Linked DNA regions of Homo sapiens. The protein of the gene in region 2 interacts with the protein of the main gene of each other region in a biochemical or structural test. Each region holds a gene or a part of one and is shown on either strand. Other genes may lie near its edges. The genes, in order: EZR, NHERF1, ABCC2 and NF2.

Evidence for each region.
Region 1: the proteins of NHERF1 (region 2) and EZR form a complex in vitro, tested with the Homo sapiens proteins (2 studies listed by BioGRID and IntAct).
Region 3: the proteins of NHERF1 (region 2) and ABCC2 form a complex in vitro, tested with the Homo sapiens proteins (2 studies listed by BioGRID).
Region 4: the proteins of NHERF1 (region 2) and NF2 form a complex in vitro, tested with the Homo sapiens proteins (2 studies listed by BioGRID).

Annotation. Positions count from the first base shown.
Region 1 is NC_000006.12:158,774,345-158,781,368, forward strand, and holds part of EZR (ezrin), read right to left. Parts: intron 2,161-7,024; coding exon 2,064-2,160; intron 1-2,063. UniProt on the Homo sapiens protein: Probably involved in connections of major cytoskeletal structures to the plasma membrane. In epithelial cells, required for the formation of microvilli and membrane ruffles on the apical pole. Along with PLEKHG6, required for normal macropinocytosis.
Region 2 is NC_000017.11:74,758,609-74,765,632, forward strand, and holds part of NHERF1 (Na(+)/H(+) exchange regulatory cofactor NHE-RF1), read left to right. Parts: intron 1-3,403; coding exon 3,404-3,565; intron 3,566-4,758; coding exon 4,759-4,912; intron 4,913-7,024. UniProt on the Homo sapiens protein: Scaffold protein that connects plasma membrane proteins with members of the ezrin/moesin/radixin family and thereby helps to link them to the actin cytoskeleton and to regulate their surface expression. Necessary for recycling of internalized ADRB2.
Region 3 is NC_000010.11:99,778,293-99,785,654, forward strand, and holds the start of ABCC2 (ATP-binding cassette sub-family C member 2), read left to right. Parts: upstream 1-4,347; 5' UTR 4,348-4,552; coding exon 4,553-4,585; intron 4,586-6,315; coding exon 6,316-6,489; intron 6,490-7,362. UniProt on the Homo sapiens protein: ATP-dependent transporter of the ATP-binding cassette (ABC) family that binds and hydrolyzes ATP to enable active transport of various substrates including many drugs, toxicants and endogenous compound across cell membranes.
Region 4 is NC_000022.11:29,669,612-29,676,635, forward strand, and holds part of NF2 (merlin), read left to right. Parts: intron 1-2,214; coding exon 2,215-2,337; intron 2,338-3,657; coding exon 3,658-3,875; intron 3,876-5,224; coding exon 5,225-5,330; intron 5,331-7,024. UniProt on the Homo sapiens protein: Probable regulator of the Hippo/SWH (Sav/Wts/Hpo) signaling pathway, a signaling pathway that plays a pivotal role in tumor suppression by restricting proliferation and promoting apoptosis.

The DNA.
Region 1 (7,024 bases), on a different chromosome or scaffold from region 2:
CCCATCTTCTGATCCGGCTTAGTTTTTAATCACAGCTGTACTGTTAAATTTACTACCAGGAAGCATCTCAGTTGCCTTTTTAACCCTTTCCTTCACGTAAATGTAGGCTCACCAGGGTAGGAGCTTTGCCTTGTTGATGGTGCACACAGCCCTGGAAGAGTGCCTGGGACAGCGTGCCACCAGCGAATGTTTCTTTTGCTTACGAGATGGCTTCACATGAGGCTACTCTATAATAAAGGCACATGCACGAGATGCGTTACAATGGCTTCTGCTTGGGGCTTATTATGAAAATATTCTTCAGCTTTTCAAGAGATGGACTTATCATCAAACACACACACACACACACACACACACACACACACACACACACGCACAAACATTCTGAAACAGTCTAGTCCAGAGCTGCTGCTCTAGTCAAATTTTTAATAAGTGTTCTGAAAAGGCAGTAGCGTCACAGAGTACGTAGTAGCCTACTGATGAAGAGATTTCAGCATTTTCTTGCTCTTCTAAACTGTGCCAATCTTACTACCCAAGTGACATGAAGACGCTATGACCCTCCATTCATGCTGTTGCATAATATGAACTGCTGCCATGGAGCCTTAGAGTCTGCATTCAATACGCGTTTAATTTTAAATAACCGTGCAACTACCCACAGAGTAGCAGCCAAGAGTTTGCAAACAGCAGGAGCCCTTTTTTTTTTTTTTTTTTGAGACGGAGTCTAGCTCTGTCACCCAGGCTTGAGTGCAGTGGCGATCTCAGCTCACTGCAACCTCTGCTTCCTGGGTTCAAGCGATTCTCCTGCCTCAGCCTCCCGAGCAGCTGAGATTACAGGCGCCCACCACCACGCCCAGATAATTTTTGTATTTTTAGTAGAGATGGGGTTTTCACTGTGTTGGCCAGGCTGGTCTCGAACTCCTGACCTCGTGATTCGGCCATCTCAGCCTCCCAAGGTCCTGGGATTACAGGCGTGAGCCACTGAGCCTGGCCAAGACGTTTTTAACAAAGAAGAAAATACTTTCACAAAATTGTCAAGACCTGCTGATTTTAAATTATGCTAGACAAACCTGTATGTGGGGAGAAGTAACAGGACAATAACACCACATACTGTTCTAAGTGGATTTACCATTGCTAAGCAGTACCCAGTCCCAAAAGGGTTAACAAGACAACCAAGGTATGGACCACAGCCCATGTTTGCCTCTCCAAGCTTAACACTGTAACTAAGGAACCAAAATTACATGAGAACACAAAGTCCTTTCCAATCTATAATTTTCGTAAAATTCAGAACAGGCTCTAAGGTGGTAACAGAATTTCTTCAGGTGGCAATTTTTTAGAGAACTAGATTTCTGATTAGATAACAAAATCCTTACCCATTCTACAATGCTACAGTTATGTGCGTATGTCTCAAATATTCTGAGTTAACAAAAGTTTAAATGTCAGCAGAATAAATAAAACCAAATTTACATAATGCACTGGTCTTTGCAGCTATTACAATCAATACTATCAGATTTCAGGACATAAAGTGTCGCCTTCTTACCATGTCCTCCCAAAATGACTGCCTGCCAGTGTCACCTGTGTGAGGATGCACACCTCTGACAACAGAAGTGGGTGAAGCCCCGATGAAACCTTGGGCACCAGCAATGCTTGGGTGCAAGTCTGACTGTCCCTATCTTGGGTAAGTTCCAGGACAGCTCTGAAAGGCAAATCTGGCCCTTGAGACTCGCAGGTCCCACTGTCCGTCAGGTGCCGGGGAGAGTCCCTGCACCCAGGTGGTCAAGGGGACAGGCTGGCTCTCCACACCAAAAACACAGCATTTTGGGAAATGCTTATCATTTGGCCAATGGCTCAGAACTGCCCTTTTCTTCATAAGGAATGAGAATCATTTGAAAAGTTAAGTGGTCTCCCCTGCAGCAATTGCCTGGCCCACAGGATCTCTGGCCCTCAATGTAACCTCATGAGGAGTTTGGACTATCACTGGCTACTCGTCACAGTATAACTTGTCCGTTACCCTGACAAGTATAAGAATGAAAAACAGTAGCCCCTGAATAGAATCCTTTGGAACTTACAGGTGCCTTCTTGTCGATGGGTTTAATGACAAACTTTTTGTCATTGAAAGAGATGTTCCTGATTTCACTCCAAGGAAAGCCAATCTTTGGGGTTAACCTGAGGTTAAAAAGAAGAAGTGGATGGTTAGATGTATACATATGTTCTTGGATTGGCTAAGAGAGATTCGCAAATCAATTCTTATTAGTTCAATTAAAATAATATGAAGCTAACCCAAGAGGCACAATGTGTTATATGCTATTATCAAATAGTTCCCACCTGTCCTAGGTTAAGCCAAGTGGTTGGCTGCAAGGCATCTGCAACCTTAATCTGTTCCCATTTCCTTTGGTTTTTCCTCAGTCTAGGGCACCTATGATTACCCAGGCTGGTGATCTCGAGGTCAACTGAAATTCCTACCCAGGTACCTTGACCCTCCCCCTCAGGTATCTTCTGCTGTTCATTCCCACATCACATCACCACACTCACCTACCTCTCATCCTGCCAGAGCCCACTCTCAAGCTGTGTGCTGGAGCAGCCCTACTTTCAGTCTGCTGATCTGATTAATTTCCTCTCCTCCCATGTCAACACAGTCCTTAACTCAGCATCCAAGAGCTGTCAAATCCAGCCCCAAACTCCACGGTTCAGACCCACCTTTCAACACACAGTTCCCCAGGGCTGCCTCCCTTTCCCTTGAGGCCTCTCTTAACATACAGGCTCTTCTGCTACAGACTGTTGAATGTTATTTAAGTTACTGATCATTTAGTTCTATGAAACCAACAGGGAGGGCCAAGATCCCATCACGTTCCTAGACGTGCCATACTCAACAGAGCTTGCCAAGAGAAACGGACAGAGGCCTTGCTATGCATTCTGCTCCTCTGGTTCTCATTCCAGTGTGTGTTCTCCTGGCTGGACAGACATCTTCCCATGTCACTCTCCAACTTCCAGGACAGCCTTCAAACTAACCGCCCTAATGAAGGCCCCACAGGGCTAATCCTACTTAACCAATGCAATGCCATGACTGGCCAGACTCTGGCTTTTATTAGCATTCCCAAGTTCATCATGTGACTTCAAGACCACATTGCTCTGCTCACCTGACACTTCCCACCCTATTCTTCCAACACATTTTACCAGGGATAATGCCATTCTGGAAATAACGACAAATCCTCAAAACCACCATCCAACAATGCTGCCCTCCAAAGCAGTCCTTTCCAACATCCCACAAAAACCTTCATTTTAGAAGTAGCAGGAAGGTCAAGCAATCTATGGCCTACCAACAGCTTCAATACTGATGAGCAATACAGGTTTCGTTATGATCACATCAACTAGATCAAGGCAGTGGGGTGGACTCTGTAGGCTGAGGGCAAACATGTAAGCCTGACATGGCCCTTCTGGGGAATTAGCGCAGTCAGTCATGGTGTGCCTGCAGGAATGATGGCAGGACACTGGCCAGACCATGGTTCTAAATGTCAAAGCTTTTGTATACATCCTTTCTTTTACAGTGCTATGCTCTAGAATCACCAATCCCCATTAAAAAAAAACACACCTGGCATTCAAACAGACATGCAATGAGTTTGTTCTTTTATCTTCGAGATGTAATTTTCTTTACAGGTTTCAGAGCATTAAAGGGGAACTCCAGATACCACCTTGCCCTGCTACTGACTTCAGCCTATGTCCTCCTTACATTGAAAGGCTGTGAAAGTGGCACCAGGTAGGCATGTGTTGCTTCTGGAGCACTTTCTCCCAAAACACAAGAGCAGCCTGCTGGCACCAACAGAGAAGCTAGGATCCAAGCTCCGGAGGCTCCGCCCACAGCACATAGCACTGTGAGCCAGCGTGCCGCATCCTGAAACTTCAAGGGGCTGGGATCCCCTCTCCGGCTCCTGTCTCTACACAGGACTCTCAAAACAGGTTCTGACCTTAGAAAATTTAGGCCTCCGGCTCTCTGGTGTGCCTAGAAAGTTTTTCCTCTTAGGACTTTGAAACCTCATATAACAATTCATAGCCACTCATAAGCATAACTGCAGTATCAAAACAAAAAGGTTAAACATGAAAATTATGACTCACTTTTGAGTTAAAGAACTTTTAATTCTTGACCAAAGTTGGAAAATTAAAGCCCAAGGATTTCCTTTTTCCTAAGAGATCACATATAGGACATGAACAGGGTCTACAGAGAAGGTGGCCACAGGGTTTATAAGTGTCCTTGCTTAGGCCACACATTAAAAAAGCGTGATTCTCCAATAACAGGGACCAGACAGAGGCCTTTGGAGAAATGGCTGATTCCAGGACTAGAACAGGGAACACAAAGGATGAACCTGGTGCATCTCGAGGAGCCAGGCAGCAAGGAAGCCTGCAAAGAATGCAGGGCTCACACTTCAAGGTGCTCCTAAAGGCCAAATCTCAAACAACCTGAGCAAGAAGATACATACTCATAGATCATAACCCAAAGACCGAAACACATATCCATGAGTCCATATTAATATAACTGAATAAATGGAGAACAGAAATTGGCTCCTTATAGAATTCCAATTAATACACGTAAAAAGTTTTTAAAAATCACAATTTCTCAAATACCACAGTAATCTCATCAATGGTAGCTAGAACTAGGACATCTACATAGTTTAAAATTATCTCCCCCAAATATACTGACCAATTGTAAAGGGAAGGATAGTGATTTTACAGTGGAGAAACGTGGCAGACACCACCTTAACTAATAATCAAAATTAGCACCACCTAAGATAAGATATACCGACCACATGTGCCACCTTGAAAGAGGTCCTGGAAGGGCAAAACAGCACTTTATTCTTACCAAAAATGTAAAACTCCAAATAATGAGAAAACACCAGACAATCCAAGCTGAAGGGCTTTCCAAAGTCAATGGCCAGTACTCTTCAAAAATACCAAGGTCATGACAAAAAAAGACTGGAACTATCCCACATCGAAGGAGACAGGGAGGTCTGACAACTAACTGTGTGGCTCCAGAGAGGGTCCCGGGGCAGAAATAGGACATCAGTGAGACAACTGATTAAAATGGGAATGAGGTCTAGAGACTGCTAATGTTAATTTTCTTATCTTGGTATTTGGACTACGGTTACATAAGGTGTTAATGTTTGAGGAAGCTAAGTGAAGGGTATATGGGAATTATTTGTACTATTTTTAGAATCTTTTTAAAGTTTGAAATAATATATATATTTTAAATTGAGATGGGGTCTTACTCTGTCACCCAGGCTAGAGTGCAGTGGCACAATCTTGGCTCACTGCAGCCTCCGCCTCCCGGGCTCAAGTGATCCTCCCACCTCAGCCTCCCAAGTAGCTAGGACCACAGGCATGCACCACCACGCCCAGCTAATTTTTTGTACTTTTGGTGGAGACGGGGTTTTGCCATGTTGGCAAAGACCAGCCCAGGCTGGTCTTGAACTCCTGAGCTCAAGGGATCTACCTGTTTTAGCCTCCCAAAGTGCTGGGATTACAGGTATGAGCCACCATGCCCAGCCTGAAATGACTTTAAAATGCAAGAATGGGCCAGGCATGGTGGCTTACACCTGTATCCCAGCACTTTGGGAAGCCAAGGTGGGCAGATCATTTGAGGTCAGGAGTTTGAGACCAGCCTGGCCAACACAGTGAAACCCCATCTCTACTAAAAATACAAAAATTAGCCAGGAGTGGTGGCATGTGCCTGTAATCCTGGCTACTCGGGAGGCTGAGGCAGGAGAACCGCTTGAACCCAGGAGGCAGAGGTTACAGTGAGCTGAGAATGTGCCATTGCACTCCACCCTGGGTGACACAGTGAGATTCCATATCAAAAAAAAAAAAAAAACCAAGAATGATTAAAAAATGTAAATCCAAAATATGTAGCTGAGTGTGATAATGTTCTACATGTCTTAAGATTTTGCATTTTTCAGGCATATTTGTCAGAACTCAACAAATGAACACTTAAGATTACATTTCATTGTATTTAAATTTTACATCAAAAGAACAAAACATAACCAACCTCTAGTATATCATATGCACTTTCATTTTGAGGAAGGATATGGATGCCTGCAGTTTTCTTGGAAATGTGTTAGAGGGCCAGAGGGTGACAGTGGAGTGCATACGGAAAGAGACGTGAGAAAGCAAGCGAAGCCCTGAGTACCTATCCGCAAGGAATTTAAAGAAGAGACATGTTCTGTGGCTCCTGTTTCAGTCCCCAAGCTCCCCGTGCACCCTTTCCCTTTAAGGTGGAAGCCCTGGACCTAGTGCATTTCCAGAAACTCCTACCTACAGAAGGACTTCTATGATGAAATCTGCCCAAAGAGGGATGAAGCTAAGGGAGAAAAAGTGCTTTTACAGGACTAAAGATCAGGTTCCTCTAGTTTTTGTTAGTTTTTGTTTTTGGTCCGAGTGTCAGGTTTCAAATTGTAACCCAGCTAAACTGAACTTCCTCTGTTCACAAGCTTACAATGCCTGTCAGGAGGGCGCTTACCTGTTTTTGCCCTCTTTATACTCCCACCTATTCCAAGCTAAGGGTTTAAAGAAAGATGACAAATAGTCCTACATGCTCCCACTTAATGCTTATGTGTACAATGAAAAGGGAACCCCAAGAGACAGATTTCCCAGCCAGACCCTATTTAATACTAAAACAGGTGTTTTAATAGAGACTTTACTTGCAGAGTATAAATCTCTTAGAGCTCAATTTCCATATTCAATAGATCAGCTTTCTCACCTGAACAATGTTTCAGGCATATCTAATTCTCCTAGTTCTACCGAGAGAGGTAACAGCGCAACAGCTGGCGAGTTCTCAGCACTCCTCAGACTTCAGGACAGTCTCCTGCTTATGCTGCTACCAAGTTGTCAATATTTGTTCAAAAGGGAAAGAATTTGGGCCTATTAAATGACTGAATATCTACATAAATGCTTTTTTCATGAAGAGAGGGGTGTGCCTTCAGGAATGGGGAGAAGAGAGGCAGAAAGTGAGCCTGCCCAACACCCCAGCATGCTCTGTGGGGAA
Region 2 (7,024 bases):
CTCACTGGGGCTATGTTCCTTTTGAGTCTCCTCCTCCCACCATGCTTCGGACCCCTCTGTAGCTGGCTCCTCCTAAGATCCTGGGGGCCACACACCAAGCCCAACATGCCTGGACGTCACTCCCATTTATCCCCTTTCCCCAGAGGCAGAACCCAGCCCTGCCCCAGCTTGGCGGTGAGGGTCCAAGAGCAATGGTGGCTGAGCTCGGCCAGGTACCCCACACCTCCCCATCTTCTCCTCTCAGTGCTGGGCCTGGAGACCACAGGCCAGGCCCCACAGATCCCCAGGGGGGCTGCCCCAAGGGACTCCCCTGCCAGCCCCAGCCTCCACCCAGGCTGGGATGGGCTGGCTTGATGGGCTGACTCAGCAACTGGCACTGACACCTCCTGGAGACAGCTGGGAGGCTCCTGCTAGGGAGGGGTGAGGAGGAACAAGGCTGGTCTCCCTTGAAGAGTGGGAACCCCCCTTCCCATGTGAGGGGAGGAAGTCTCTAGGGACTTGGGAAGGAGGCTCTGCAGGTGCATCGGAGCTGTCTAAATGCTGGTGGGGTCTACCGGGGGCTTCCCATCTCCTTGTCCAGCCACCCCCTCAGGTCCTGGAGCCGCCACAGAGCCACATCTAGACAGAACAGTGGAGCAGGTCCCAGTGCAGGGGAAGGAAACAGAGGGCACCTGAGCCCCTCAGGCTGGGTACCCTGTTTCCCCTTGAACTGCACGACTTGGTGCTGGCAGAGCGGAGCAAGGCTCAAAGCAGGCCCTGGAGCTTTGGCACCATATGTCACTAGGCGAGGGGCACTGGGCTGAAGATCAGTAAGGGAAGCCCACAGCACAGAGACCAGGGCCAGAGGATGGGCATCCCAAAGGCAGCTAGCACAGCCCTGCCCTGCCAGCCGGGGGGGGCGCCCAGAGCCACCTGCCCCCAGTCCAGCCATGCCCCTGCCCTGTCACCCACACCAGGCTTCATCCCCCAGCTCAGGCTGCAGCTCCAGCTGCGAGAGGCCCTGAGCGCCCGGAAGGAAGGCTGTGGTAGGTTGTGGTTTCTTCAGCTCCCAGCCTACCTCCAGCAGAGGCTGCAGCCGATGCCCTGGAGAGAGCCCCTGTCTGCCCTCTGCTGCCTGACTCCTGTTGGGTCCTCACCTCCCAATGGGTTGCCCCATTCTGGACTTGGATCCTTAAGGAGCACCCTGCAGTGTGGTGGAAGGAGGACAGGTTCCAAGTCAGAGACCAGGGTTGGAGTTCTGGCTGTGTGATGTCAGGCAGTGGGCTCCACATCTCTGAGCCTCAGTTTCCCCATCTCAAAAACAGCTGACAAGCCCCAGTCAGGTTGTTATGGGAAGGTTTTTGGGAGCGCAGGGACGGTGGAGGGAGGTTGGAGGAGGTCACTAGAGCTGCCCCCTGCCTGTCCTGAGATTTCACCCTCCCCACTTTCTCAGGGTGTCTGGCTGAAGCAGAAAGCTGCGCCTGTCCTGGTGACGGCGACTGGTCAGACTTGTTTCTGCTCACCTAGGCGGCCCGGGGGAGGGCCTGGCTGGGAGCTTTGTGGAGGGATTAGCTCTAGGGGAGAAGAGCCTCACTTACTCCCGGAACAAGATCCCACAGGGCTGTGGGAGTGCCGGGGGGTGAGCCTGGGGCAGGTGACAGCCGAACTAGCTGGGAGTGGGCCCTGCAGTGAGGCAGGGGGTGGGCCAGGGAGAACAAGGCAAGAGGAGCTTCATTCAGGGTTCCTGAGCCTTTGTGAGCCACTCACGTTTTTACCACTCACTTAACCGTCTTTGTTGTTGGGGTGAGGGGTCCTCGAGCCTGGATTTGGGTATGAAAACCCAGGCAAGAAAGACCTGCCCAAGCCTTTAAAGGAATGCAAAGTCATCCTCTAGCCACCCCCAGAGATCGAAAGGCTGGGGATTGAGTCTCCTGCAGATGGTGGCGGCCTCCTGGGGCTGGCAAGTTGGGACAGAGGCCCATAAGCCCTCCTGGGCGCGCCTTCCCACCCCTCTCGGCCCTCTCCACTCCCAGCTGGGGATTTGGGTTTCAGAGCAGCCTGGCACACACACCCCCACCCCACCAGAATCTCACTCCCAGCTTCCTATGACTATTCATTAGTATTCACAACAATGGGAAAGTCTGGGTGTGCACAGGGATTTTTTACAGTTAGAAAGTGTTTAAGTCAATGACCTCACTGGGCCTCAGCAACCCTGGGAGGCAGATGGCAGTCAGAATGATCCATAAATGACCTGCCCCAGGTCACACAGCTCCTAAACAGGGGAGCTGGAACCTGGCTGGGAGCCTTGACTATCCACTGCTCATTGTCTGATGTGCTGAGTGATAACACAGGGCCAGCAGGCTGGACAGCAGCCAGTGGCCCTGCACCAGGCCTGGAGGAGGGGGAGAGGGACAGGGACTCAGGCGTAGTCCTTGGGCACAGGCTTCGGCTGCCTACACCCATATTCCCTCCATCATACTGTGTGTCCAGGCCTGCAGCTTCTAAGCTGAGCTGCTTACTTTGGACCAAGCATGTTGGAAACTGTTTTCAGCTGAGTCCAAGCACTCGAAATCTGCGTGTGCCCTTTTAGTAGGTCACACCCTCCAGGCCACAGCCACACTGGGCTCCCTTTAGCCCAGCCCTGCTTTTCCCAGTCCCCTCCCCATTCAGGCTCCTCTGTTTCTGGGGTCTCTGTGCTTCCGTTGCCACCTCTGCCCTTGGGCAGCGGTGTCGGGGGAGGAGGTCCTGGAACGCCTGAGGATGGCCCCGTCTTGTCCAGGTCCCCTTGCTGTGCTGAACAATAAGTTTTTGGTTATCTGCTCCTTCTGGCTCCCTTTTGGCTGGGCCATTCGGCTTGGTGGGGGTGAGAGAGAGTTCGAGTATATGGAGGAAGGCTTTACTGTAAACACACTGACCAGCTTTCAGTAAACACCTGCCTCTTCCTCCCCTGCTGCAGAGAACGGGGTACAAAGGGGCTGGGGGTCCTCAGTCATATGCCCCAGGTCCCCAGCCAGGCTGACGGGTGCCACACTCTGCCCCCTCTCCAGGAGGGCCAGACTGAGCCACCAATGGGGAGGGATAGAGGCCCGATCAACACAGCATGTGATTCACCTTAGACTGTCAGAAGGGACAGGCATGTGAGAGCTAACCTGGTCCTACCCCTCATTTGGCAGAAGAGGAAACTGAGGCTTGGACAGAGCAGTGTTTTATCCACATCACCTAAGCAGTTAGCTGCGGTGCTGGGTATCCACACAAGTCTTTTGAGTCCTGGGCCAGAACCCTCTCAAATTGCTGTGTAGGGATCTAGGCAAATTTGCATCCTCCCAAACCTTCCTTGGTTGGGGAGATGGGGACAGGCAGAGGACAGGGAAGGCAGAACCTGGGGCACTGTGGAATAGCCATGGACCCTCCCCTGTCCCTGCAGCGCGAGCTTCGGCCTCGGCTCTGTACCATGAAGAAGGGCCCCAGTGGCTATGGCTTCAACCTGCACAGCGACAAGTCCAAGCCAGGCCAGTTCATCCGGTCAGTGGACCCAGACTCCCCGGCTGAGGCTTCAGGGCTCCGGGCCCAGGATCGCATTGTGGAGGTGATGCTTCTCGCTCTCTTCCTATCTGACTGCCCCCACCCCCTGCAGATCAGCAGCACCTGGGGCAGCCATCATACCATCATGGGCTTGATTAGCCCACGGGCATAGCCAACCTGGAGCTGCTGGATGGATGGGTGGATGGGAGGGAGGGAGGGAAGGGTGGTGGATGGATAGACGGAAGGACAGATGGACTGACTGATGGACTCTTCTCTTACCTCCACTCCCCTGGACTCCTCCTTGCCAAGCAGATACAGTGGGCAGCCTGTGATTCACCCATCGATCAGGGAGATGTCTGGGGCCATCTCCAGAGCTTCCCTGCTGCCAGGCACACAGAGTGGGGTGGCAGTAACAAAACCCCTCTCCTGAGTTAGGCCTTTATTTATTTAGTTTTTTTTTTTTTAAATGGAGTCTCGCTTTGTTGCCCAGGCTGGGGGAGTGCAGTGGCACAATCCCAGCTCACTGCAACCTCCGCCTCCTGGGTTCAAGCGATTCTCCTGCCTCAGCCTCCTGAGTAGCTGGGATTACAGGTGCCCACCACCACGCCTGGCTAATGTTTGCATTTTTAGTAGAGACAGGATTTCACCATGTTGGCCAGGCTGGTCTCAAACTCCTGACCTCAAGTGATCTGCCCGCCTCGGCCTCCCAAAGTGCTGGGATTCCAGGCGTGAGCCACCTCACCCGGCCCCGAGTTAGGCTTTTAGACTCGTGCATTCAGGGCTCTGGTGCTGTGCTCCTGGGAGAGGAAACGTGAACCAAATGCTCAGGCAGGTCCCAGAATCACAGTCTTAGAACCTTAGAGCTAGAGATCAGCTCTCCCAAGACTTCTCATTTTACACGTGAGAAAACCAAGGCCCAGAGAAGGAAGTCGGACAGCAAGTCCTTACCCAGGCTGGGCCCCACCCCGGCCTCCCAGCTCGCTCCCATCCCATCTCTCCCAGCTGTGTTTGTTTAGTCTCGTCTGGATATTTTCGTTGGCCCTTCCCATGTATCCTGCCTCCCCAGCTGACTGTCAATGGGAGGACCCCCAGCCTAGTTCAGGACTCTGCAGAAATGGCGGGGGTCAGTATCCCCAGGTTGTGAACTGCAAACTGGCTGAGAACCAAGGTGGTCACCCCTGCCCCCAACCCCCCTCCACTTACCTGCCCCAGAACCAAGGCCTGTGTCCGTAACGCCTCCCCGACCCTGCCCTGCAGGTGAACGGGGTCTGCATGGAGGGGAAGCAGCATGGGGACGTGGTGTCCGCCATCAGGGCTGGCGGGGACGAGACCAAGCTGCTGGTGGTGGACAGGGAAACTGACGAGTTCTTCAAGAAATGCAGAGTGATCCCATCTCAGGAGCACCTGAATGGTAAGCCAGGTGGGGCCACTGGCCGTCCTGGGGCTGGAGCCCCCCAAGTCAGGGATGTGAGCCAGGGCTAAGACTGCTGGGTCCCAGGCGAGGGGTGGGCAGCTTCCCGGCATGGGTGCTCCCTCCTCCTCCTTCATGGGAGGCCCAGAGGTGTGGGCTGGGGGAGCGGGGGCCTAGTGTAGGGAGTGGCAGTGGGTTTCTGAGGACGGCTTGTGATGGGGTCAGCTGGCATGAGGTCGGTGAGAGAGATGGACAGATCTTCTTATTCCCGGCCAAAGCTGCAGCCCCAAAGGAGGCCCAAGCCCCCAGTCCTGTCCCCACCAGCAGACTTTCAGGGCAGTGTCAATGTGAGGAAAGGGTTAACTCCGGGGAGGCCTCCAGCCTTTGCTTGGTCAGATCAGAGTCCAGTGACGGGGGCCGGTGCCTCCCCCTCCCTCCTCTCAGGTTGTCTTGGAAACTCAGCCTTGCTGGCTCTAGAGAGTAGTGGGTCCCCCTTCAATCCCTGGGCCCCTGCCCTCCCCATCCCCCACCATCACCCTGCCAAGCCTGGCGCCTCCCCCTGCCCAGGCCCGAGCCAAACAGGGCAGGGCTGCTGCACCGGGGCAGGGAGGGGTTAAGCATGCTCTGCTCCTTGGTCTGGACTTTCTCCCTGGGAAGATGGCTCCCTGGAGCGGGCAGGGGTGCTCACTGGGCCATACTGAGGGTGGAACCTCTTGGGACTTTGCAGTGGGTGGGGCCTCCTGGAGACTCAAGGTTGTATGTGTAAAAGGAGATTCACACAAAGGTCCTGCGACTCCCATCGCCAGCTGCAAGGGCCCACTGGGGAGGCCCTGTCCCCTTCTGGCGCAATCCAAGGCCTGAGGCTCCTAGAAGAGGGGATGGCCCCTGGAAGTCCCTAGCTGGCTCTGGGCATGGGAGGTGGGGTACCGCCTTACCCTTATCTCCCAAGTTCATGGAAACCAGGTAACTCAGATAATCCCCTTCTCCACTGAGGGGGAGACTAAGGCCCAGAGAAGCCCCAGCCTTCCTCCTAGGGATCTGATACGAGGAAGACACAGCTGGAATCTGGATTCCACTCAGCTCCTGGGATACTGTCCCCTGCTTCCCCCACCCCTTCACCCTGCAGGTAATTGGCCCCCTCAGACATTCCTCCCTCTTCTGCCTGTCTCTCGGGCTAGAGGGGCTGCAGCCTCTGGCCAAAGGACCTGAAGAGGGAGAGGCCTGGGGACAGTCCCCTCCCCGCAGTCCCTCCAGGATGGCATCCTCACCCTTTCCATAGGGAGGAATGCCCCCCTCTCCGGCTGCCAGGGTTTCACCCTGACCACTGTGAGCTGATGGGGAGGGGACAGTGAGTGACCCTGTGTCCCAGCAGCCTGTCCTTGCCCGGGGAAGGCTGTGGGTGTCAAAAGGGAGGAGAAGATGAGAGTCAGGTATCTCTGGCTGTGTCCTGGACTGGGGACAGGGAAAAGATAACCAGGAATTTTAAGCTAAGAGTTCAGAAGAAGCCCTACACTGACCAGTCCCTGGAGATGGAACAGCCACCCCTGAAGCCATGTGGGACCCCTACCCTGAGTGAGCCCAGTGAAGGTGACCCCAGACCTGTCTTCTCTCCCTCTGACCCCTCCAGGTTTCCCACTGGCTGGGGGAGGGGATACCCAGGACACACCCCTTGAGCCTTCTCGTCCCCCCTCATTTCCTGATTGGCAAATAGGAGTTGGGATTATTTTCTCTTTTTTTCTTTTTCTTTTTCTTTTTTTTGAGATGGAGTCCTGCTCTGTCACCCAGGCTGGAGTGCAGTGGTGCGATCTCGGCTCACAGCAACATCTGCCCCTAGATTCAAGTGATTCTTCTGCCTCAGTCTCCTGAGTAGCCGGGACTACAGCCATGCGCCACCACGCCCAGCAAATTTTTATATTTTTAGTAGAGATGGGGTTTCACTATGTTGGCCAGGATGGTCTCGATCTCTTGACCTTGTGATCCGCCCACCTCGGCCTCCCAAAGTACTGCGATTACAAGTGTGAGCCACCGCGCCTGGCCTTTTTTTTTTTTTTTCCGGACACAGTCTCTGTCACCCAGGCTAGAGTGCAATGGCACAATCTTGGCTCACTGCAA
Region 3 (7,362 bases), on a different chromosome or scaffold from region 2:
GCCAAAAAGGTTGGGGACCACTCCTCTATAGGAATTCTTTTAACATTTCTTGCAAGGCAGGTCTACTGGCAACAAATTCCCTCAGTCTTTGTTTGTGTGAGAATGTATTTATGTATTTATTATTATTTTATATATATATATAGAGAGAGAGAGAGACAGAGAGAGAGAGAGAGAGAGAGAGAGAGAGTGTCTCACTATGCTGCCCAGGCTGGACTCAAACTCTTGGATCAAGCAATCCCTCCACCTCAGCCTCCTGAATAGCTGGGACTATAGGCACGCACCACTGTGCCTGGCTTCTCTTTACTTTTAAAGAATAATTTTGTGGGTACAGAATGCTGGCTGTTGGTGGCTTTTTTCTCTCACCACTGTAAATATTTCATTCCATTCTCTTCTTGCTTGCATGCTTGCTGAGGAAAAGTTGGACATAATTTTCATCTTTTCTCCTCTACAAGTAAGGTCTTTTTCCCCGGGCTTCATTCAGAATTTTTTATCTTTGATTTCCTGCAACTTATATATGCATGCCTGGTTGTAGGGCTTTTGTTTGTTTGTTTGGCATTTGTTCTACTTGGTGTTCTCTCAACTTCTGTGATCTGTGATTTGGTGTCTGAAATTAGTATGAGGGAAATTCTCTTTCATTATTGCTTCAAATATTTATTCTGTTCCTTTCTCTGGTTATTCTCTTCCTGCTATTTCCATTACACATATGTTATACCCTTTGTAGTTGTCCCATAGTTCTTGGAGATTCTGTTTATATAGTCTTACTTATTTTTGCAGTTTTGGCAGTTATTTTCAAGTTCAAATATTCTGTTTTCAGCCTTGTTCAGTCTACCAAAAAGCCCATCAAAGGCATTCTTTATTTCTATTACAGTGTTTTTGATCTCTAGTATTTATTTCTTTTTAGTTCTTTCTTAGAATTTAAACTCTCTGCTTACATCGACCCATTTGTTCTTGTATGCTGTCTACTTTATCCATTAGAGCCCTTGGCATTGTGATCATAGTTGTTTTAAATTTCTGGTCTGATAATTCCAACATCCCAGTCATATCTGAGTTTGGTTCTGAGGCTTGCTCTCTGTCTCTTTAAAGCCTTTTTTTTTTCTTTTTTTTTTTTTGCCTTTTAGTATGCCTGGCAATGTTTTCTTCATAGCTGGACAGGATATACGGAGTAAAAGGAAGTGCTGTAACTAGACCTTTAGTAGTGTGGTATACAGTGGGGGAGGGGGAGAGGAAGAGTTCTATAGTTCTGTGAAGAGGTCTCAGTCTTTTAGTAAACCTGTGTCTCTAGACTGAATTTCACAAGTGCTTCTCAGTTCCTATCTGCCCCGATCCCTGTTAGGTGGGACGTGATGGCTAGAGTGGGCTGCAGCTGGGTATTTTCAGTTTTCATGTGGAAGGCTAGAAGAGACTGGAGTTCTTATTTCCCTTCTCCGGCATCATTTAGGCTCCTATAAATCAAGAGCATTAGGCTCTATTTAAACAGTTTTTCCCAAGGGCAGACTTTGTTTAGAAGAGAAGAATAGAGTGTCCAGGTATATTTCAAATGGTTACTTTTCCTATCCCCTCTGCCAGGGACATGGAAGCAGGAGGAGATTTTTCTCTAATAAAAAGAGAACAATATTTGAGAACCTCTTTGAATTCCTATGGGTAAACTCATGAAAGTGTGGAGATCATCCCCTCCTTATGGCTGAGTCACTCTGGAATTTTTCTCTCTCAAACTTATCTACACTGGGCCTCCGGCAATTCAATTACAGTTCAGGTTTTCCTGCCCTAGCCCTGGTTCCTGCTGAGATTTCTTTTCTTTTTTCTTTTTTTTTTTTTTTTTTTTTTTGAGACAGTGTCTCTGTTGCCCAGGCTGGAGTGCAGTGGCGTGATCTCAAGTCACTGCAAGCTCCGCTTCCCGGGTTCACGCCATTCTCCTGCCTCAGCATCTCCGAGTAGCTGGGACTACAGGCGCCCGGCACCACGCCCGGCCAATTTTTTGTATTTTTAGTAGAGACAGGGTTTCACTGTGGTCTCGATCTCCTGACCTCGTGATCCGCCCGCCTCGGCCTCCCAAAGTGCTGGGATTACAAGCGTGAGCCACCGCGCCCGGCCCCTGCTGAGATTTCTGCGCCAGTAAATTGTGATTTTTGATATTCTCTTGTTTATCTCTTCAGTTTGCCCTGTAACCTTATCTCTCTACAGATCTAAGAAGAGTTATTGATTTTTCTATTTGTTCAGATTTTTAGTTATTGTTAGGAAAGATTCATGACTTCCTGGCTCCTTACTTGCTTTTCTCATTCAATATTCCCTATGAGTACATATTTTATACTTTAAGCAACTTGTTTTGATGAACATTTAGATTCTCCACCCTCTCTTTTTTTGATTACTTAGAACGTTTAGGCCAGACACGATGGCTCATGCCTGTAATCCCAGCAGTTTGGGAGGCCGAGGCGAATGGATCGCTTGAGCCCAGGAGTTTGAGGCTCTACAAAAAAATTAAAAAAAGAAAATTAGGTGTTAATCCTTGACCTTATATTTCTCAAAGTTTTACCAAGAGTTCCCCCGGACTCCGAGTCCTACCACCAGTGCCAAGAGAAGTATGCAGCCTAAAGGTGCACCCTGCCCCAAGTGAGATCTCTTAGTTCCACAGCTGACCTTTCCTGGCTCTTCTGGTGAGTGGTATGGAAAATGATGGAGAAACTGCCATATGTTTTCATAATGGTCAGACCAATTTACATTTCCATCAACAGTATACTAGGGTTCCCTTTTCTCCACACCCTTGCCAGCACTTATCTTGTTGTTTTTTTTTTTTTTTTGTAATAGCCATCCTAATAGGTATGAGGTGGTATCTAACTGTGGTTTTGATTTGTGTTTTCCAGATGACTTGTGAAGTTGATTCAGTTGTCATATACCTGTTGGCCATTTATATGTCTTCTTTGGAAAAGTGTCTGTTCAAGTCCTTTGCCCACTTTTTAATTTGTTAGTGTATGTTTGCTATTGAGTTGTATGAGTTCCTTATAGTATATTGTGGATATTAACTCTTCATCAGTTATATGGTCTGCAAATATTTTCTCCCACACTGAATGCTGCCTTTTCATTTTTTTTATGTGTATACTTGACTTTTAAAATCAGTAACAAGGTCCATACAATTCACATTTGGCTGATATGCCTCTTGATTCTCTTGTAATTTGTAAGTTCCTTTGACTCCTTTCCTTCTTTTAATTTATTTATTAAAAAATGGAATCATTTGCACTATAGAATCTCCCACATTCTGGATTTTGACAATTGCATTCCAATGGAGTCCTTTAGCATGTTCCTGTGTTTCTTATAATCCGGTAGTTAGATCTAGAATTTGACCAGATTTAAGGCCAATTTTTTTTAGCTAGGATACTGCATGGGTGGTTATGTTTTAGCTAGGATACCGCATGGGTGGTTCATGATATCATGAAAAAAGCATGTTCTTAAAGCAATTTAAGTGACAGTACAAAAGGTTGGGTCAGGTGGGGCACGGTAGCTCATGCCTGCAATCCCAGCCCTTTGGGAGGCCAAGGCAGAAGGATTGTTGAAGCCTGGAGTTTGAGACCAGCCTGGGCAACATAGTGAGACCCCGTCCCTACAGAAAACATTTTTTTAATTAGCTGGGCTTGTTGGCATGTGCCTGTAGTCCCAGCTACTCAGGAAGCTGAGGCAGGAAGATCGCTTGAACCCATGAGGTCAAGGCTGCAATGAATCATGATGGCAACACTGCACTCTAGCTCAGGCAACAGACCAAGACCCTGTCTCAAAAAACAAAAAACAATAACAAAAAAAGAAAAGGTTGGGTCGATGACAGTTTCTAGCGACTGATGCCACCACTCTGTTTACAGAATCACCCCTCTCCTCTGGCCCTGATGTTTTATCATGATATCATATTTACAATGCCTGGCAAAGGCTTCATTCCCATTTGGCATACTACCTCTCAGGCAAATAGAACTTTTGAAAGCCTGTATTATGTATATAACATATAGGCTCACACTGGATAAGCTATTTTATAACCTGACTTCTTCAAAGAAAGTTTACATCATGTTTAAACCATGTTTTAGATTCTATATTTTTAATTAAAAATCTAAGGAAGAAGGATATTTCACATTTCTATAAACTCTAAGATCTTGCAGCAGAAGCGAAACTGCACATTTAGGGGTGCCTGCCCCTCTACTGATGCTGCCCTTTGTGGGTCATATGTCCTTAGGAAAATGAAAGACTGTGCACTCTTGATTTGTTGGCCAGCTCTGTTGACATCTTTCAGTGGTTCCTTTTATGTATGGCCACTCCTACAGAGGCCTCTTGTACTTTGGGAACTGGTGAGTCTCCCTGTCCCTAGGGCTTTTTAGTCACATGTCCATCCACTGTTTCAATGTAACATGCATCTAGGCAAGGTTAACGATTAAATGGTTGGGATGAAAGGTCATCCTTTACGGAGAACATCAGAATGGTAGATAATTCCTGTTCCACTTTCTTTGATGAAACAAGTAAAGAAGAAACAACACAATCATATTAATAGAAGAGTCTTCGTTCCAGACGCAGTCCAGGAATCATGCTGGAGAAGTTCTGCAACTCTACTTTTTGGGTGAGAAATTACATTTATCTTCATATTGACTCTTCTCAGACTCAGAACAAGTGGTAGTTAGTTAACTTAGGGTGGTCACCAACAAGAACCAGAAATGTTAGATGTGCAATTGGTCTAAAGCTCAGGCTTTTTAGAAAGCATAATTCATAATATCTCCAGAGGATATAAGATCTGGGAAATGTAATGCAAATTATTCTCTGTCATATGTTTTTTTATATCAGACTCTTGTACTAGCTAGTCGCAAAATTGCCTTCTCTAAAGAGAAACAGGTAAAAACCTTCCAATTTAATCCGTGTGAGGAAGGAGAATTGTTGTTGCATACTTTGCTAGTAGAAGGAAGAGAAGATCCGTGACTGAGTCTTGCTGAGACATGTTGATGTTGAAATGATAATGATAAGTTCTAGAACTGGCAACTAATGATATGGACTAGAAGTTGAGTCTAGGGATGCAACTTTGGGCATCATGAGCATTGAAATAATTTTTGAACAACTAGAGTTGGGTAATATTGTTTTTAAGGAAAAGAAGAGACACCACTTAGAGGGTGAACAAGAACAGTGTAACATTACGGAGTCATAGATAGCAAAAAATTTCAAGATAGGGGCCAATCAACAGTATCAAAGGTCTAGTGGAATAGAAAACAAAAAAGGACCTTAGATTTAGTGATTTTAGTAAGGGTTTGGTGAGAAAGTATCATCTGCAAACTCCTAGCCTCAGCATCAGAATCACCTGGGGCAATAAATGTAGTTTAAGTATCTTAAGTGATTCTTCTGAATTCTAACATTTGATAACCTTATATAGAGGTGAGAGGGGCAGGGATGAGATAGCAGAGCACCTGGGCAGCACCTCGTGTCTTAGAAAGGACCTGGGTCCCAAGACCCTCGAGGCCAGGAGTGTATACCACGGCAAGGTGGATCTTCATGGGCTATAGTATCTAGACAGGCCATCTCTTGAGAATTCTTTCTGAGAACTACCTGACAAACTTTCTTGGTCAGGGCATCGCAAGCAATTCTTTAAAGAGTCTGTATAAATAATCATATAAAACAATTTTTAACTATTTATAGGAAAAGAAAAATCCACACTCATGTGACTCAGATACAAGAATTGGTGCCCACCCCCCACCCCCCAACTTCCACTTCACAAGACACTTCCATTTATCGCAGAATGCAAAGACTGCACAAAACTTGCTGGTTGGAAGCCTTCTGTCCAACAATGCTGTTGTCACTGCTGTGCTGAAACTGGCCAGGTTTTTAATGTAAGCGCTTTGGGCCATCAGAGAGCAAATGTTACAGTATGACTAAGCATTCTCCCTGCATGGCGCCTGCATGTTTGAATATCTGCCAGTGAGTTCAGTTAGTGCTAGAAACTTGAATAATTTTTTATATCCCAGGGAACTATTCTGTCCTTTAAACTGGGGAACAGTCCTTCTTCATCCTATAATTTGGCAAATGCAGTGGTGAGGTTTACTCAGAATAGCTGGTACAAAATTCACTTAGAATCACAAGAAGACACGTTTTTGGAGGGTGGGTTGGCCAGAAAGTGACTACATTTGTCATTAAATGGTGAATTTGTATCCATGTGCACAAATAGGAAAATACGGATAGTTAAAGGGTAAGGCTGGATATGGATATGGAGTTGAATTTAAATTGTGTGAAAGCAGTGGGATGTGCTGCAGGGTGGTTTTCTGTCTTCACAATGCATGTATGCAACAATCCTTCCCCTTTGGTCTCCAGAATTCCTCATTCCTGGACAGTCCGGAGGCAGACCTGCCACTTTGTTTTGAGCAAACTGTTCTGGTGTGGATTCCCTTGGGCTACCTATGGCTCCTGGCCCCCTGGCAGCTTCTCCACGTGTATAAATCCAGGACCAAGAGATCCTCTACCACCAAACTCTATCTTGCTAAGCAGGTAAAGTTAACACCACTGTTTCTGAACTCTAATTCCTTGGTGCACAGTAGAGACATTTTCTTGGTGGTTAGTGTTCTCTTCCTTGTCTTTAAGCAGCTGTCCCAGGTGCCATTGTCTCAGGTAGAGCCAGGCTCAAGGTTTCCCTCACGGGTCCCTTGCTGCATTTCTTAAATCAAAGTGGCTTTGATTTTTGCATAAGAATGGTGACTCTTAATTCTTGTGGATATTGGGTTCCCTAAACACAAAGGGCATATAATCAATCAAATTATCTTTATAGCATTTGAGAAATGAACACTGGATCACCTGTCTTTAAACAGCTCTAATAAATCAGTGGACTGTAATTCAGTTGGCATCTACCTCGTGAAAATGAGCTAGATAATGGATCTCCTGCCCCACTGAGGCAATCCAACTATCACTCATCTTCAAAAACTTGGGTCCGAAATAAGGTTTCCATTTTCCCCGCATATTTGATGAGTCAGGATGATCACTCACAGTAGAAGGAGGAGGGGTAAGTGTGCACAGTGACAAGCACGAGTAGGGAAATAATGGAAAGGACAGGTCTGCGGGAGAGGCCCAGGAGGGGCCAGGAGGGGAGGAGCCCTCAGCCAGCTGCACCAACTCACTCAGGGAAGGGTCTTGTGGGAACCCAAGACCCTCATTCGAGGTTGTAAAATTATCTCATAAAATCTTCCATCTGCTTCTTTTCACTATTTTTTTTTCTATCTCTCCTTATTATCATTATTACTACCATTTTAAATGGAGTCTCACTCTGTTGCCCAGGCTGGAGTGCAGTGGCACTATCTCGGCTCACTGCAACCTCCACCTCCTGGGTTCAAGCAATTCTTATGCCTCAACCCCTCCCGAGTAGCTGGG
Region 4 (7,024 bases), on a different chromosome or scaffold from region 2:
TAGAAGTAAGAAATCTGAAAGTGTCAGGGAATATGCAGTCTGTGGGCCCTGGCAGAGAATAGCAGGAACACTGCAGATCGGCACTGCTTACAGCACAGCAGAGCCACAAACCTGGCATCTGGGCAACCACAGATCAGGTGGACAGACACTGACCTTGGAGCCAGATCTGAAATTTAGAATGTGAGTAAGTCAATGACTTACCTTCCAGACCTTAGTTTTCTCATCCATCAGGTGAAACTAATGATATACCTTCTCCATCTCAGATGAAGGGACGTATATTACACCTTACAGTCTTTGTATGCAGTAAACTTCTTTTGTGAATAGGAGGTCTTTTATATTGGGGTAGAGGTCTCAGGGAAAGTACAGGGCCAGGAACTGAAGGAGATTACCTGGCTTTTTTTTTTAATAAAAGGGTCTTGTTCTGTCACTGAGGCTGGAGTGCAGTGGTGCCATCATAGCTCACTGTAACCTCAAGCTCCTGGGCTTGAGCAATCCTTCTGCCTCAGCCCCTCAAGTAGCTGGGACTACAAGTGCATGCTACCACACCTAGTTAATTTTAATTGTTTCGTAGAGATCAGGTCTTGCTATGTTACCCAGGCTGATCTCAAACTCCTGGGCTCAAACATTCCTCCTACTTCAGCCCCCCAAAGTGCTAGGGTTACAGGCATGAGCTGCTATGCCTGCCTGGCCTGACTGGGCTTTTTCTTTCTTTCTTTCTTAGTTTCTTTTTTTTTAAAAGAATTGTAGATATGTAGTAAGCCACCTTATGGAAATTGTAATATGATGGAAATTAGAGAACAAATTGGCCAAGCTTTTCATTGACTTACAAGGAGAAAATTGGAGAAGAACTTTCACTGTTTTATTGCTTGTCTTTGCATTATCTTTTTGAGCTTGTGTGTGTGTGTGTGTGTGTGTGTGTGTGTGTGTATTTGGCTTAGGATTTAGAAAAAGCAGCAGTCTTAGAAACCTTGTATGACCAGAGTGTGGGATAAGATTGAAGCAAGAAGTAATTAAATGTGCTTTAATTATTTAAGGCAGAAAATAGTGCAGTGGTCACTTCTGGGTTCTGCTTTTTGAACTCAGTTAGTACCCTGGGATCACAGAGGAATGGCACTGTCTTGTGCTTGTTCCCCTTATTAAGCTCAGCATGTGGCCCAATTAATGCAGTGATCCAGAAGGCAAGGGAGGTAGTGGTGGCTTTGTGCTGTTGCCTTAAGGACACGGGGCTGTGTTTCCCGCCTGGCTCCCTCCTGTCCTAGGCCTGGCTCAGGAGTTGTCTCCACATGAGGCTGTGCAAGTCTGTGCTGTGGCTGTTGCAGCTCCCCCCTGTGAAATACAATGTGTGAACTATTGATGCATCACGTAGAATGATTCCATCTTCTCTGTGGGTCAGAGGCAAGAGTGGAGCTATTGTTGATGAAATCAGAGATGTGAGAGGGGTCCATGTGGATTAGAAATGGTGAGATGGCTTGCCTGCCCAGATGAGAAAGCTGCTTATTTCTGGGGCTCTATCTGAGGGAGGAGGTCCTGCATTGCATCCCATCGGCCATGGGGCAGAGCCACCTGGGGTTTCCCAACAAAAAGCAACATTGGCAAGGTAGCCATTTCAGTGCACCGTGTATAAGAATGCCTCCTTCTGCCAGGCGCGGCGGCTCATGCCTGTAATCCCAGCACTTTGGGAGGCCAAGGTGGGTGGATCATAAGGTCAGGAGTTCAAGACCAGCCTGGCCAATATGGTGAAACCTGATCTCTACTAAAAATACAAAAATTAGCCAGGCATGGTGGCGGGTGCCTATAGTCCCAGCTACTCGGGAGGCTGAGGCAGGAGAATTGATTGAACCTGGGAGGCGGAGGTTGCAGTGAGCCGAGATCGCGCCACTGCACTCCAGCCTGGGTGACAGAGCAAAACTCTGTCCCCTCCACCAAAAAAAAAGAATGCCTTTTTCTATCCGGGTCAAGACTCAACAGGTTTTTATTGTTTGTTCATTTGTTCATTCACCACTAGACTGTTTTTCAAGTGGCACAGCTTTCAACTCTGCAACTGGTTTAGAAGGACGGGGTGGGGGGCAATAAGAATGACCCTGGCTACCTAAAGGAAAGGGAAGGAAAAAGGTCCCAAAAGGGGAGACTGGAGATGGGGCATCTTTGGGCCCTTGTGGCACCCTAGGTCTCGAGCCCTGTGATTCAATGACTGTTTTTCTTCACCCCTCGCAGATGGAGCGGCAGCGCCTCGCTCGAGAGAAGCAGATGAGGGAGGAGGCTGAACGCACGAGGGATGAGTTGGAGAGGAGGCTGCTGCAGATGAAAGAAGAAGCAACAATGGCCAACGAAGCACTGGTGATTTCTGAGGGGCTGGGGTTCCAGGAGGCTACTTGGGGACTTCCTTGGCTTTTCTGGAGCTTGGTCTCCTGAAAACCATGAGTTAGCAGCGTTTGCTTTGAAATACTTAATTTCAGCTTTGAAAAAATCAGTGCCTTTTCTTTTCACCTGTGTTGGCAGAAGCAGATTTAGGTTGAGCTTATGTGCAGCCAAACTCCACTTTCACCACGAGGTTGCCTTTATAGCAGGGCTTCTCAGCCTGGGCACTACTGACATTTGGGGCTGACCATCCTTTGCTGTAGGAACTAGATCCCAGTAGCAGCACCTCACCCTCCATTTGTAACAATCCAAAACATCTTCAGACATTGCCACATGTCTCTTTTTTTTTTTTTTTTTTTTGAGACGGAGTCTCGCTCTGTTGCCTAGGCTGGAGTGTACAGTGGCACGATCTCAGCTTACTGCAATCTTCACCTCCCAGGTTCAAGCAATTCTCCTGCCTCAGCCTCCTGAGCAGCTGGGATTACAGGCATGCATCACCATGCCCAGCTAATTTTTGTATTTTTAGTAGAGATGGGGTTTCCCCATGTTGGTCAGGCTGGTTTCGAACTCCTGACCTCGTGATCTGCCCGCCTCAGCCTCCCAAAGTGCTGGGATTATAGGTGTTAGCCACCGTGCCCAGCTGTACTTTTATTTTTTTTTTTTGAGATGGAGTTTCACTCTTGTTGCCCAAGCTGGAGTGCAATGGCATGATCTTGGCTCACTGCAACCTCCGCCTCCTGGGTTCAAGCGATTCTCCTGCCTCAGCCTCCCAAGTAGCTGGGATTACAGGTGCGCGCCAACACATCCAGCTTTTTTTTTTTTGTATTTTTAGTAGAAATGGGTTTTCACCATGTTAGCCAGGCTGGTCTTGAACTCCTGACCTCAGGTGATCTGCCCGCCTCAGCCTCCCAAAAGGCTGGGATTATAGGCGTGAGCCACCGTGCCCCACCTGCCACATGTCTCTTGCAGGGGACAAAAAACTCCTCTGGTTCTAACCACTGATTTAAAGGGAAAGAACAGAGTTTAAGTTGTTTTTCTCCACGTGAAGCATAAGCCTGAGCTGAGGTGGGTACTCAGAGAAGGTGCTCTTGTTACTCCCCATGGGTGCAGCCCGAAGGGCCCTTCTGAAAAGTTGGGGAATGTGGCTTGTCATTTCTTGTCAGAGGGTCATGGAGGGCACTCAGCAGCAGGGCCCCAGGAGTCCGAGACTCTGGTTTGTCCCATCTCAGTGTTCAAGGCAGATCTGGGCGGGAGAACAGCACATGATCCCACTTCAGCTAAGAGCACTGTGCCCTCCAGATGCGGTCTGAGGAGACAGCTGACCTGTTGGCTGAAAAGGCCCAGATCACCGAGGAGGAGGCAAAACTTCTGGCCCAGAAGGCCGCAGAGGCTGAGCAGGAAATGCAGCGCATCAAGGCCACAGCGATTCGCACGGAGGAGGAGAAGCGCCTGATGGAGCAGAAGGTGCTGGAAGCCGAGGTGCTGGCACTGAAGATGGCTGAGGAGTCAGAGAGGAGGTGAGGGGGCACCGGGCACCAGACTGGCGAGGAGGCTGGCGAAGGGCCGCAGACCAGCCTGCCCTGAGGCTGAGCTCTACAGCAGTTGTCCTCAAGCTGCTTGCCCATCTTCTGGGCCGTGGGGAGGCTCCTCCTTGGCTGATGGTGACTGGTGCTTTATCCATTTTGGGGCTGGCGCTACTGGTTGGGCACAGGAACTCAGTTCCCCCTCCAGGGGGGCCTCTCTGGTCATACTTGTGTCTCTTTGATAAGCCCCTGTCCCTCTGATGGCCGTGTGTGCAGGAAAACCCCTGAGCATATCCACAGACCGCTTTCAGCTGAAGAGATGTGAGGAGGCTCTTTGTGCATTTAAAAAAAGTGTGGTTCTTTTCTGCTTTCATTCAGTGGGGCTGCAGGAGAACAGCAGCTGCCTACCTTTAAAGGGAAGCTAGTGCCTGCATCCCCCAGCCTTTCTTGGCACATGGGGGAGGAGGGCTAGGATGATCTCTGTGACTGGGATGTCCCACTCATGGCCAGGTTGAAGGATGGAACTGTTGTCTGTACTTTTGAAAGACTATTCTAGGCCTGCAACCTTCAGATAAACACTGACACATTCCCCACAGCTTTTGGCTCTGTTGATTTAGAGCACTTGAATTTGGCTTTTAGCTACCAAGGTGCATTCACTACAGTTTTCCTCACCACGCTTTGCATGTCGTTCTGGGAATATGGTTCCTTTTTGCCTGCCCTGCTTCAGGCCCCTTACTGTATTCGGGGGTCACTCCCTGTGCATGATGCAGGTTGGGCCAGGTCCCTGCACCAGGCCTCACATGCCGTGACCACCTGAGCCCCATAGGATGAGGATCTGCACCAGGGTGCGGGTGCCCTCAGTGACTGGGCTCATCTTTCTGCTGGAGAAAGTGGGCACAAGGCCCACTGGTGTTTTATCCGGGGGCTGTGAAGACGCAGTTCTTGCACATTCTGCCCTTTGCGATCCAATATAAGAACTTTGATCCTCCAGGTTCTTCCTTTGCCCAGCTCACTCTCACCCAAAAATAAAGCAGAGAAAGCTGCTGGTGCCCTCTCCAGCTCCTCTGTCTCCTGGCTGCAGAAGGTCTGGTTTCTCTCATTCCCCACCAGTTTTCCTGCTCTTCCAGTTTAGATTTACCAACTCAAACAAAAGTCCTCAGGAATGTTGTCCTTGCTTGGAAGTTCTGATTTCATGTAAATATCCCTGTCTCACTGTCCTTTTTCACCTCTTTGGGTGCCATCCTCAGGGTTAGCCCAGGTCCCTCCTCTGCAGGGGTGGGGTGGTGTCTTTTCCTGCTACCTGCCCTCTTCTGTGAAGCTGACATCTCATCCTTTCCTTGCAGGGCCAAAGAGGCAGATCAGCTGAAGCAGGACCTGCAGGAAGCACGCGAGGCGGAGCGAAGAGCCAAGCAGAAGCTCCTGGAGATTGCCACCAAGCCCACGTACCCGGTGAGCCTGGGGGCCACCAGCTGGGGCTGCCTTAGTCCTGGTGATGTTCTCTTTCCTCCCGGCCCTTCAGTTCATCTGGCGGTGCCTTCAGGGTGACCATTCAGGCAAACACATGGCTGGATGAGAGGTGCAGAGAGCCTGCAGTTAGGGACTGGGTAGAACATCCTGGTCTGCCATTTGGCTTTGGACTAGTTAGTTGTCTCTTTGGTTGCCTGGATAACAGGCAACAGGGCCTTTTCCAGCTCTGGAATGTTTTTCTTTTTCTAAGTAATATAGTCCCAAATTATCCTCAAGAGAATTTGCTCTCTTGCCTCTTAATGCTGAGCTGAATGTAATCTTCAACTATCAGTATATACCATATATCATAATTATAGTTCTGGGAAGGGATTGGCTGTACACCTCAGAGTGAATTACTGCCGTGCAAGAACGAGCAGCCACTCTCAGTTTGGGGACAGAGAGTCAGACTTCCATTAAATGGGGTCACAAAATGAATAGAAGCCTCTTTCCTTCCTTTCTTCTGTGCATTCAGTTTGGCATTTTTTTTTTTTTCATATTTGTTCAGTGTCCACATAGTGCCATGCAGTTGGAAGTCTCTATCCTGACAGGTGTTCTCAGGGTGCACAGGTGCCTAGAGGAGGAGGACACAGCCCACCCTGGAGGAGCAGGAGAGGCTCAGTGTGGTGTCTACACTGATGCTTGAAGGGGGAGCAGGAAGTAGCCAGGTGGAGAAGAGAACATAGGGTATTCAGGGTGAGGGCACAGATGCACACATGGCCCAGACTCACACACAGCACAGTCATCTACATGGCACAGACACACACACGTACCCATACATACATTGATGCACATAGCACATCCACACACACAGCACGGACACACACGCACCCATACTTACATTCATGCACATGGCACAGGCACATACATGACCCAGATGCACAAAGGGCACCAGAGGCACAAGCTGCCCAGGGTTTGAGGTGGGGAAAATGTAAGCAGTTTGCTGTTGCCGTATATCCCGGTTCTCCGTTACTGTGTAACAACCCACCCAAGCCAGCTGTGTGGCTTTGTTAGTACCTCTGGTGGCTTGTTGGGTTGACTGGGCCAGACAGAGATCCTTGCTGGGGATCTCTCTGGTGGTCACAGTCAGATGGTAGCTGGGACTGGAGTCGTCTGAGCAGTCAACTGGGCTGAACACCTGAGATGTGTTATGTTTTTATTTTTTATTTTATTTATTATTTTTTTTTTTAGAGAGAGAGAGTTTTATTTACTCTGTCACCCAGGCTGGAATGCGGTGGCAGAATCTCGGCTCACTGCAACCTTAGCCTCATAGGCTCAAGCGATCTTCCCGCCCCAGTCTCCTGAGTAGCTGGGACCACAGACATGCACCACCACGCCCAGCTAATTTTTTTTTTTATTTGGTAGGGACAGGGTTTTGCCATGTTGCCACAGCTGGTCTCAAACTCCCGAGCTCAAGTGATCTGCCTGCCTCAGCTTCCCAAAGTGCTGGGATTATAGGCATGAGCCACTGTGCCCAGCCTATATGTGTTGTTTTTAAAATATACACTGGAGCAAAGCTTATACACTGCTGTAACTGCTCTTTCCTCTTAGCAGTCAATCCTGAAGGAGATCATCCATATCAGCTTTTTAATCATGTTTTGTTGTGTGGATGGATTGTAATTTATTTAACCAGTCCCTCA